Homo sapiens: one gene and its partners. The protein of the gene in region 3 interacts with the protein of the main gene of each other region in a pairwise test. Each region holds a gene or a part of one and is shown on either strand. Other genes may lie near its edges. The genes, in order: SLC10A6, CD53 and CNIH1.

Region 1 (3,732 bases), on a different chromosome or scaffold from region 3:
ATGTGGTGGTACACACCTGTAGTCCCAGCTACTCGGGAGGCTGAGGCAGGAGGATGGCTTGAGCTCAGGAGTTTGAGGCTGCAGTGAGCTATGCTCACACCACAACACTCCAGCTTTGGGGACAGAAGGAGGCCCTGTCTCTAAAAATAAAAAAAGGAACCTTATAATATACCTTACTCTGCAACTTGTTTGCTTTTTTTCCCACTTCATCTATCACAGACATCCTCTCAGACCAATACATTTAAACTTATTCTTTTAAAGAACTGCGAAATATGCCATAATCTAAATATGCCATAATTTCTTCAATCACTTCATTAACCATAGGTCAGTTGCTTTTAGTTTTTTGCCATTATAAATAATGTTATAATAAACACTCTCATACATACTTCACTTGAAATGATTCTTTTCTTTCTGTGAATTCCCAAGGTGGAATTGCTATGTAAAAGTCTGTGTTTTTTGTTTTAATATATACTTTCAGACTACTTTCCAAAAAGATTGCTACATTTCACAATCTTGCCTACTCCGGATGTGATCAGTCCCTTCTAATTGTCATGCCAGCATTGAAAAATTGATCTCACTCTTGTTACACTCTTATTTTTTTTTTTTATTTTTTTTTTTTAGCTGGAGCTCACTCTGTCACCCAGTCTGGAGTGCAGTGGCCTGATCTTGACTCACTGCAAGCTCCGCCTCCCAGGTTCAAGCAATTCTCTCTGCCCCAGCCTCTGGAATAGGTGGGATTACAGGTACCCGCCACCACACCAGGCTAATTTTTTTTTTTTTTTTAATTTTTAGTAGAGATGGGTTTTACCATGTTGGCCAAGCTGGTCTCGAACTCCGGACCTCAGGTGATCCACCCACCTTGGCCTCCCAAAGTGTTGGGATTACAGGCGTGAGCCACTGCACCCAGCCGACACTCTGGATTCTATCAGGTTGTGCTTTCTTTCATGTCAAGTGGCTTCTTCTGTGTCCTCCTCTCTAAACAATCTTGCTTGTCAGACTTCTTCTCAACTTGTAGGAGTTCTTTTAAAATTAGGGCTCATATTACCATGAATAATACAAGTATTTTTTCCAAGCATGGTGTATATCTTTGACTTTGCTTATGACTTGCCATAATTAACATTTATATAGTCAGAGCTGTTTTTTTAATGGCTTCTGAGTTTCTTATCTTAAAGACCTACCCTGATCCGAGGGCATTCAAATATTGTCTTCTACTTTTTACTTTTATGCTTATATTTTCAACTGACTTAAAATTTATATTTTGCATGGTAACAGGTATGAGACTAATCCATTTTTTCTATTAATATATTGAGATGCAAGTGTGTCAATATAATCTACTAAAATAAACCATTTTCCACTATACTGAAGTGTCACCTTTATCATTTATTAAATGCCCAAGTGTACACAAAATATTTTCTGGAAATTCTCTTCTAGCTCATTGATAAATAACTTTCTTTTTTCCTGAACAAATACTAGACTAATTACAGTGTTCTCATATATGGTAGGGCAAATACCTCCACATAAATTTCCCTTTTCAAACTTGTCTTAGCAGTTCTTGCTTATATTTTATTCCATATGAAACCCAAAATTATTTTATCCTATTAAGAATGCTTACTTTAAGCAAAGATTTCTTCCTGACTAGTAGGCAATTTAAAAGAAAAAAAGCAGTTTGCCACAGCTCTCAAACCTCTGTATCCACAAAGAGGCTGTTTAGAAAGTTTTTTCCAAATTCTTAGTCTATGATAGTGCTACATTCCTTGACTCTCCATATTACTAAGTCCTGAATGGAATTCCATATTATATCACTTTACTCTTGAACTTCTGGAGAACCAGCACAACATTTCTCTACTGAATGGCTTTGGCTCAAACAGCAGAAAGGTAAGACTCATGATTATGGGAAGCAAAGTGAGATTTATATCCGACTGATTCTATATCCTTGATTACCTATGTGATTGCTTCCATGTTTATACAATTTTCAAGCCCATGGTGATCATGATATTGGTCAAGGATGGCAAGAGGTTATCCTGGTGCTCTGCCAACTGTTACAAATACCAGCAAAGGTGGAAAAGCACACAGTGAATGCCTGTGAGTACAGTGGAAAGTCACGCCTTGTATTTTTAGCCATGAAATTCCAATGTAGCATAAACAGAGGATGTGGCTAAGTAAGTCTCTTGACTTTTCATGTATAGGAAAATTTTTGGCAAAATCTAACTTCAGTATAACAAGATTCCACTTGCATTGAGAAGAATAGCATCATCATCTCCAAACTATTACAGAAAATAATGAGACATATTCAGCAAGTCTAGACAAACAGGTCAGTCTTGAACCCTCCCTTAAAGCAGGGAAATTACATATATACACATTACATTAAAATGCAGTGTCAATAACATTTTGCAATTGGAGATTAAGTTATTATAAATTGTTTTAATTTCAAAAATCCCATAAAATCAGGAACTCTGACCCTCAAAACTATGAAAGTATACACTTGCTTTCCGACTGAAAGAAATAAAAAATTATCCAGCTAACCAGATGGACACGGAGTGAGCTATAAGATCATACCAACAGATTTGACCCTAGAATAGAGCGTAAGGCCCGATTTTCCATCCCTCAATATAAATGTTACCCTTGTCTGCTGCCTTCCAATAATAATGAGTATTTATTGAGCACTATGTGCTAGGTGTTATGTCTCATGCTTTTATATACATTTTCTCTTTTCATCTACATAATAACTCTATGTGTGAGTATTATTTTCATTGTATAGATAAGGAAATTAAAGTACATAGAGACATGGAAGCTTGCATGAAGTCTCATGAATTCAGTCTCCGTTCTGTCTCCAAAGCCTTAAATGCAAAGGACCTTCAGTTTTCCACCAAGACATGTCAGATAGACCTGAACAATTTGAAGTTCTATTTCCAGGTTCTCTACTGAAGGACTAAGAACTTCTTTAAAGTTCAAAGGTCAAAGTTGGCCACTGAGCTCCACAGGCTCCAACACCACCAGTGGTCAGAATCCTTTGTCTGCAGCTGAGGACATAAATACATCCTTACGGAAGAATGGACCTCTTGTATATATCAAAAGTTCTCAAACAAAGATAGTGGGAGGCCAGGCGTAAGTGGCCCACACCTGTAATCCCAGCACTTTGGAAACCCTAGGTGGGAGGATTGCTTGAGCCCAGGAGTTCAAGACCAGCCTGGGCAACATAGTGAGACCTCATCTCTGTAATAAAAAATAAAAAATTAGCTGGGTATGATGGCGCATGCCTATAGTCCCAGCTGCGCTGCTCAGAAGGCTGAGGTGAGAGGATCACTTGACCCCAGAAGGCCAAGACTTCAGTGAGCCATGATTGTACCACTGCACTCCAGTCTGATGACAGAGTCTAAGACCCTGTCTCAAAAAAAAAAAAAAGAAAAGAAAAGAAAAGAAAAGAAAAGACAAGACAGTGGGAGCTGTCCTGAGTTGCATCAATAAATGGACACCTCTTTTCTTTCTTTCTTTCTTTCTTTCTTTCTTTCTTTCTTTCTTTCTTTCTTTCTTTCTTTCTTTCTTTCTTTCTTTCTTTCTTTCTTTCTTTTTTTTTTTGAGATGGAGTCTCGCTCTGTCACTTGCCCAGGCTGGAGTGCAGTGGTGTGATCTCGGCTCACAGCAACCTCTGCCTCCTGGGTCCAAGCATTTCTCCTGCCTCAGTCTCCTGAGTAGCTGGCATTACAGGCATGCATCACCACACCTGGCTAATTT
Region 2 (3,500 bases), on a different chromosome or scaffold from region 3:
CCAAGAGAAAGAATTTTTTAAAAAGTCCCTCTTCTCAGATAGTTGTCAGACTAATGGCAAAGGATGGAAGATAGCAGACATGGGGTAAGGCAAATGTTTTAAGCAGTCAAAATTAATGTTGGGGTAAAAAAGGTGAAGGAGAAGGAATAAGTGAAAATGTTTTCTGTTGTGTGTTATTAGCATAAAAGGAGTAAGCATCGAAAGCTGGAAACAAATATGAGTTAGAACCATGGCTAGGACCCTTCTTTCTACCATTGTACAGGGCTCCTCTCAGCCACTACCAGCAGTCCTCCACCCAGAGGTATCCCTGATCTTGTAGAAAGGACCAGGCCCCAAATGATCTAGTTTACCAACCTTTTGCTTAACTGCTTCAATAGGCAGATGTCAAAATTGCTTAACTTATTCAACAGGTGGTGGTGTGTATGTATTATGCATGTAGTGCTCTGATAGGCACAGCAGGTAGGAGAGAGCAAAGAAGACAGTTGATCTGCCCTCTAGAGTCTAATTGTAGAAAAAGAACACATATTTTCACAAAACAAAAGAAGGCTTACAACGGCCTGAGGAGGCAGAACAGGAACACCCTGTACTCGTGCAAATGCCCCTGGATGCTCCCAGAGCTGAGTGGGAGTGGGACGAGAATGGGGATCAGTGCTGTGAGAATGTATCTGCTTTGTCCCAGTTCTTCATCCTGCTGCTGATTATCCTCCTTGCTGAGGTGACCTTGGCCATCCTGCTCTTTGTATATGAACAGAAGGTAAGTTATAAAGACAACAACTTATTGTCTTAATACTGAAAGTGGGGAGTATGCAGTGGAGAAGTTGGTACAAAGTTACAGAATAAGTTCTATAATAGAGATAGAAATGAAGTGGAAGGATAGAGGAAACAGAGAGTAATTGTAATTGGGGGGAAAATTTGTATGAAAGAGATTGTATCTGAGTGGTATCTTGAGGGGTGCCTGGAAAGAGCAGTAAAACAAGTGTCTCTTCCTCTACTTGCTTTCCTCTGTGTGTTTGGCAGGAGAGAATGTCTGCCTCAGTGCCTAAGGATAGCCCTTGCTTTAATTGCTCCTTTTCCTCCCTTGTAAAGCCAGAGCTCTAGAAGGAAGCAAGCCTACTAAATACTTCTTCCTTCAATGCCACCTCATGCTCAGCCTGTATGCCCATAGATAAACACCCTCCCCTCACCCTTAGTTCTGAGGAGACCATTTGGAAGGGAAGCGCAAGTGGAACCACTAACCTATACTGGAAATTCCTTATTCCTTGAACTCACCTGCTTTTTACCATGTCTCCTCTGCTGGAATGTGCCTGCCCAGCTGAATGAGTATGTGGCTAAGGGTCTGACCGACAGCATCCACCGTTACCACTCAGACAATAGCACCAAGGCAGCGTGGGACTCCATCCAGTCATTTGTGAGTACAGGTGGAATCCTCTTCAGATCAGCCCAGACTTCATTTTCAAGCCTAAATCCTTGGGGGCTAGTTCCTTTTTCTGGAAGTTTCAGAATCTAAGGTCCACATCCCTGAATCCCAGAATAATGCCTTGGCTATCACAAACATGGGAGCCCAGTAATTAGTCTGATTAGTACAAAGTTCTCTACATTCTCTCTTTCATCCTTTTCTAACATGAATAGGTTTATTTTCTAAGTTCTGCTAGGATGTGAAGAAGACCCAAACACAGCAAACTGGATTAGTTTATGTATTTTCCAAAATTTTACTGAAAACAGCATTGTATAACACAAGAAATTGCCATTGAGTTCCCGAGTTGCCCAAATCAGGCTTGTTACCTAGCCCACCAACATCCCATTCCTCATGTGCTGTTTCCACCCACAAACGTGTATATGTACAGCATATACAAGCTCTGCATTCCTGACATGATGTGTTGGGAGATAAAGATGGAGCCTTGCACCAGTATAATCTATTTGTGTCTCGAAACAGTACCACTATGAAAGCACGCTGGCTTAGTGTGGAGTAGAAGAAATGGCACAGGAATTAGAGCCTGGAGACCAGAATTGGGTAGCCCTGGGGAAGTCACTTAACTTATTTAGATCTCCAATTCTTTATTTTTTTAATTCAGTTTAGAAAACTTTTTATTACATAATTTTTAGAAATATACAAAAGAGAAAAACAGAAAAATGAATCTCCCAACTCTTCAATAGTTAACATTTTCCAGTGTCATCTCATCTAATTCCCCACACTTTTTTCGTTAGAATATGTTAAAGCAAATACTAGACAATATATTATTTCACCCACTAAATATAAAAGAACTTCTTTTTAATACACCTAAAATTTTATAATTTCTTAATACCACTAATAAAGTCTATAATTAAATTTCCCTAATTTTCTCAAAAAATTTTAATTGACTTGTTCAAATCAAGATCTTAACAAGGCCTATGTGTTTATATTTGAATGATAGGTCTCTCTATTTATCTTTTAATCTATAATAGTACACCTCTTTGTTCTTGCTCTTTGTGGAAAGAAATTAGGCTATTTGTCCTTTAGACTTCTCCACTCTCTAGATCAGGCTAGTTGCTTCCTCGAGTATTTTGGTATCAGGGAGTCTCTGTCTCCCATAAGCCCCATGAACTTAAAAGTTTGATGTGGTTTTTGTTTTGTGGTAAGACTGCCATAGCTGTCACTTCCTGTTGCATCGTGTAAGCAGGTACATAATGTCTGATGGTCCTCCTTTCTGTGATCTTAAGATTGGTTGGTGGGTCCAGGGGTGGTCAGCCTAATCCCTCCATTATGCAGTCCCTGGGTGCCTTATTCTTGATCTGTAAAATGTGACTAGATTAAGCACAGGGGTCTCTACTCCACAGGGATCTTATGTGAATGAAATGGTATAACAGATTAGAAAGCACTTTGTTTTAAGGAGCCCATAGCAATCAGACCAATTCTGGACTTCTGCTATAGAGTCAGATCTGAAGGGCACACCTTTTCCTCTAAGGTCCACAGCTTTTTTTCACTGTTGACTTTCTAACCATCATCATTTTGGGGGTTTGGCTTTTAGCTGCAGTGTTGTGGTATAAATGGCACGAGTGATTGGACCAGTGGCCCACCAGCATCTTGCCCCTCAGATCGAAAAGTGGAGGTAATTTTGTCGGCAATGTTTCTGTTATTGACCTCTTTGTTTAAATGTTTAATTACCTCGGAAACTGCAGTCATAGAGGACCTAGACCTTCTATTGAGAAACAGGGGACCTTGAATAAAAGAGAGGCCAGGGCAACAACCTTGGGTAATTAGAAAAGTCAGAAAAACATACAAACAAACTCATTTAGACTAGAGACACTGTGATTGATCTTGCTACACTAGACTATTACATTAGAGGGGAACAGTTACTTTTGTGTGAAAGTAGGAGAGGGTTGTGTCTAGATATTTCTTAAGCAAGAAGTAGGTCTCCTTATGGTTAAAGTGAAATGTATAGGGTTGAGATAGAAAAGTTTCTCCCTCTCCCTCTTTCTCTGCTCTTCTTCCTTGGAGATGGCAGAATCCAGCCCCTTAGGGA
Region 3 (3,732 bases):
ACTTAGGTTAAGATGTTTTAAAATTAACACTTAATGCTTTCCAAGAGAAGGCAAATTCATCTTCTTATGTCTTGTTTCATAAGAGCAAAGAAACAGCTAATAAGTTAATACTTTTAATTGTACCTACATCAACTCTTACTGTAACAGTTCTCTAAAGACAAACTAGAAATCTCTTCCACCATCCACATTTATCTGGGAAACAATAATAAAGTACCAAACTAACTTTCTAGATGCTTTTCCAAATAAAATCCCTCTAGCACCTAGTGCTAGTACACTAGTATGCTAGACAATTAAAATCTACACAAACTCTCCCCTTCGTTAAGTAATTTTTAAAGCTGAATTACTGTATTTTATTTCTTGAAGACATACCCACTGCTTTCTTATAAACAACCAACCTTTCAATTACTGACCAGTCAGGCAAAATCAAATACACAGGCTAAAAGAGTATCTTCCTAAATGCAGGCAAAAATACAAAAAAACAAACTGGGTACCCTGGTGTGTGCCTGTAATCCCAGCTACCCAGGAGATTGAGGCAGGACGATCACTTGACCCAGGAGTTTGATAAGAGCCTGGGCAATATAGAGACACCCCCATCTCAAAAGAAAATTTAAAAATACATACATATATATTTTTTCAAAAACCCTAAGCACAATGGAGCTACATTATCACTAAATTCATGATGGCTCAGAACTCAGTGTAATTCAGGCCTGTTTTAGAAACAGAAAGTAGATACACACTAGAAATAACCACATAGACATTTGTATACAAATTGTTATCTACAAAATTATGGCACCCTAAGTCCAAAGAATGGCATTGCTGCGAGATCCCAGAGCCCCCAGAACAGAGCTATCCACCTAACAGGCTCTGAATAAACATCAGCTGAAAGAATGACTCATTTATTCCAGAATATGCAAACCAAAGATAAAACTAGATATGGCAGATAAGTCCATACTAAAGATTTCACTCACATACTACCTCACAATAAGTCACAACCCGAGAATCATCTCACCATCTATTAGTCATTTTATGTTAACCAACTTTCAAGTACTACACCAAATAATTTCACATAGAAGTGCCTATGGCTATAACATAAAAAAACGCATACGCATTTAACAGCTTTCCCTACTTGACTGGGCCAGCAAGCATATATTTGCATAAAATATGAAATTTCATGAAATCATAAACCTCAACAGGCATATGAACGAGCACACTGAACAAAACGTTACAAATACAAATGCCCTAACCCTCCCCATGAAATGAATATAGCATTAAAACATTTAACTAAAAAGCAGTACACACCTTTAATGCAATTTTGACTCTTTTAATCTTTTTGACCTTTTCAACTGTCTTTGGCCGACAATGTAAAAAGCAGATTGGAAGAATGTTAGTATGACAGCTGACAAGATCACCAGCAGATTAATAATAGAATAGTCAAGCACGACAGGAAAAAGAAGATTTTTTAAATTCTGCCTACTTCAAAAAGTACAAATATATTATGCTACTCAGAATACTGGCCATTTTCAAATTACTTCAAGTTAAAAACAAACATATTTTTAAAATCTAAAGATAAATCCTATATTATAACTTACGGGATTCAGGGTATTACACTGGTCTATAGGATTCTTGTAATCAGTCTTCAGCTCATCAAATGCTATAATCTAAAATAAAATTAAAACAGTTAGGACCACTCACTTTAATTAAAAGCAGCAACAAACCTGCCCCATCTTCAAATAATTATTAAAGTTAATAAAACAAGAACAAAAGTACACCAAGATCCCAAATACCAATTTACAGTAAACTCATATATGACAAAAAGAACCAGAATGCGATTTAAAGTGAAAACACTCTTATCTCAGTATCACTAAAATTTGGTATTACTGTAATAAATACCTTCAATTTTCAATTTCGTCAATGCCTCTGCTCAAGTTATTTCAACTTATCTCTACTCGAAATAATCTTCTGAGTAGAAAAATAATTTCAACTGTTTATCCAAATTCCTCTTTATCCTAAAAAAAAAACAAACCTTCCTAGGTCAACTTCTTTCTGCAGGCTTTCCTAACTCCTTTGGGCAGAAGTAATTGCCCACATCTCCACACAGCATGGGACTCTATAATGCCATCGATATGGCTTTTCTCACCCTGGAGTGTGGTATTTACACACAGGTCTGTCTGCCCCTCTACACTCTCAGGGAGAAGGACCATTTTTATTTATCTGTGCATGCTCCTCCTCCCTTGGCACAGTGCTCAGTGGGACACTAGAGATGGATTCGAACTCTTCAATGTGTTCCCATTGGTGCCCAAACACATACATTTGTAAGGATGCTTTTGTCCACACTCTGGAGGAATGTGGCTTCAACCTCAAGGGTCACTAGAATGTACATTAAGAGTCAAAATAGGGACTCTGCACCACTTTGTGGCATCATTTCAGGTGACAAAGAAAGAAAACAAAGGCAGCAAGTTGATGGGGGAGCCATTTTAGTTGCTAACACTACTCACCCCAGGGACACACAAACTAAGCTACCCTTCCCTTAATGAGTTAGGAATAGTATCTTTATATGTGAAAGTGTTGCTCAATATTATCAGTAATCAGTAAAGTTACATATTTCCATCTTTTAACATGACTGTTTATTTCCCTGTTAAAATTTAGATTCATAAAAAGACGGTTTTTTTAATTTCTAGAGTTCCATAAAATTCACCCACCTGCCCTAATAAAAACTCCAACCAAACAACAATAGAAGGAAAATAATAAAACATTAGAATGTAATCTCTGAAAGAACAAAGATTGTTGTATTTACTATTATGTCCCAGGGCCTAAAATATAAAATAGTGCCTGGCACATAGTTAAGTGTTCAATAAATATTAACTGGAAGGAGGGGGTGAAAAAAATAGCACTAGGGATTAAAAAAAAAAAATGCAGAACTCACCAGGGGGATTTCCCTTGGCTAATGACACCTAACACAAATGTTAAAAACATACATGTGTAATTAGAAAATACTAATTTCTGATTACTTATGGACGTTATTAGTCTGCTACTTGACGTCAGCCGTGGTATATAACCCCAATGCATTTTAGTAATAAAGCTCAAGACAAGGATGATAATCATAAGTACTTGTCTATAACAAGATCCAACTTAACAGAATACAAAACTTGTCTTTAAAACTGACATTTAATTGGACATTTTCTCCAGGTGACTTCAAGGGTTTTTTTTTTTTTTTTCTTGAGACAGGGTCTTACTCTGTCACCCAGGCTGGAGTGCAGTGGCACAATCTCGGCTCACTGCAACCTCCACCTCCTCGGCTCAAATGATTCTCCTGCCTCAGCCTCCGGAGTAGCTGGGACTACAGGTGCATGCCACCATGCCTGGCTAATTTTTGTAGTTTTTGTAGAGATGGGATTTTACCATGTTGCCCAGGCTGGTCTCAAACTCCTGAGCTCAGGTGATCCACCTGCCTTGGCCTCCCAAAGTGCTGGGATTACAGGAATGAGCCACTGTGCCTGGTCACAGGGATTTTTTAACTATGTTGTTGAATGGGTTTCTCTTTGAGTGCTATAGGCTAGGGTTTTCGAACCTCTTCTGAGAATATTCTTAATGATTTTCAAATCTTTTTGCAGCTATGTGGCTGAGCAAAGACACCCACAAAATTTCCTACAGAAGTATAACAAAAATAAAACAGATAAATCCCTAAAGATGCCCAAGTACACAATTCAGAATACCTTCCAATTTAATACACAT

What was found.
Region 1: the proteins of CNIH1 (region 3) and SLC10A6 interact in binary tests that used the Homo sapiens proteins (3 or more experiments, as listed by UniProt).
Region 2: the proteins of CNIH1 (region 3) and CD53 interact in binary tests that used the Homo sapiens proteins (3 or more experiments, as listed by UniProt).

The regions. Positions count from the first base shown.
Region 1 is NC_000004.12:86,839,310-86,843,041, forward strand, and holds part of SLC10A6 (sodium-dependent organic anion transporter), read right to left. Parts: intron 1-3,732. UniProt on the Homo sapiens protein: Transports sulfoconjugated steroid hormones from the extracellular compartment into the cytosol in a sodium-dependent manner without hydrolysis.
Region 2 is NC_000001.11:110,893,648-110,897,147, forward strand, and holds part of CD53 (leukocyte surface antigen CD53), read left to right. Parts: intron 1-679; coding exon 680-754; intron 755-1,312; coding exon 1,313-1,408; intron 1,409-3,005; coding exon 3,006-3,086; intron 3,087-3,500. UniProt on the Homo sapiens protein: Structural component of specialized membrane microdomains known as tetraspanin-enriched microdomains (TERMs), which act as platforms for receptor clustering and signaling.
Region 3 is NC_000014.9:54,434,780-54,438,511, forward strand, and holds part of CNIH1 (protein cornichon homolog 1), read right to left. Parts: intron 1,659-3,732; coding exon 1,590-1,658; intron 1-1,589. UniProt on the Homo sapiens protein: Involved in the selective transport and maturation of TGF-alpha family proteins.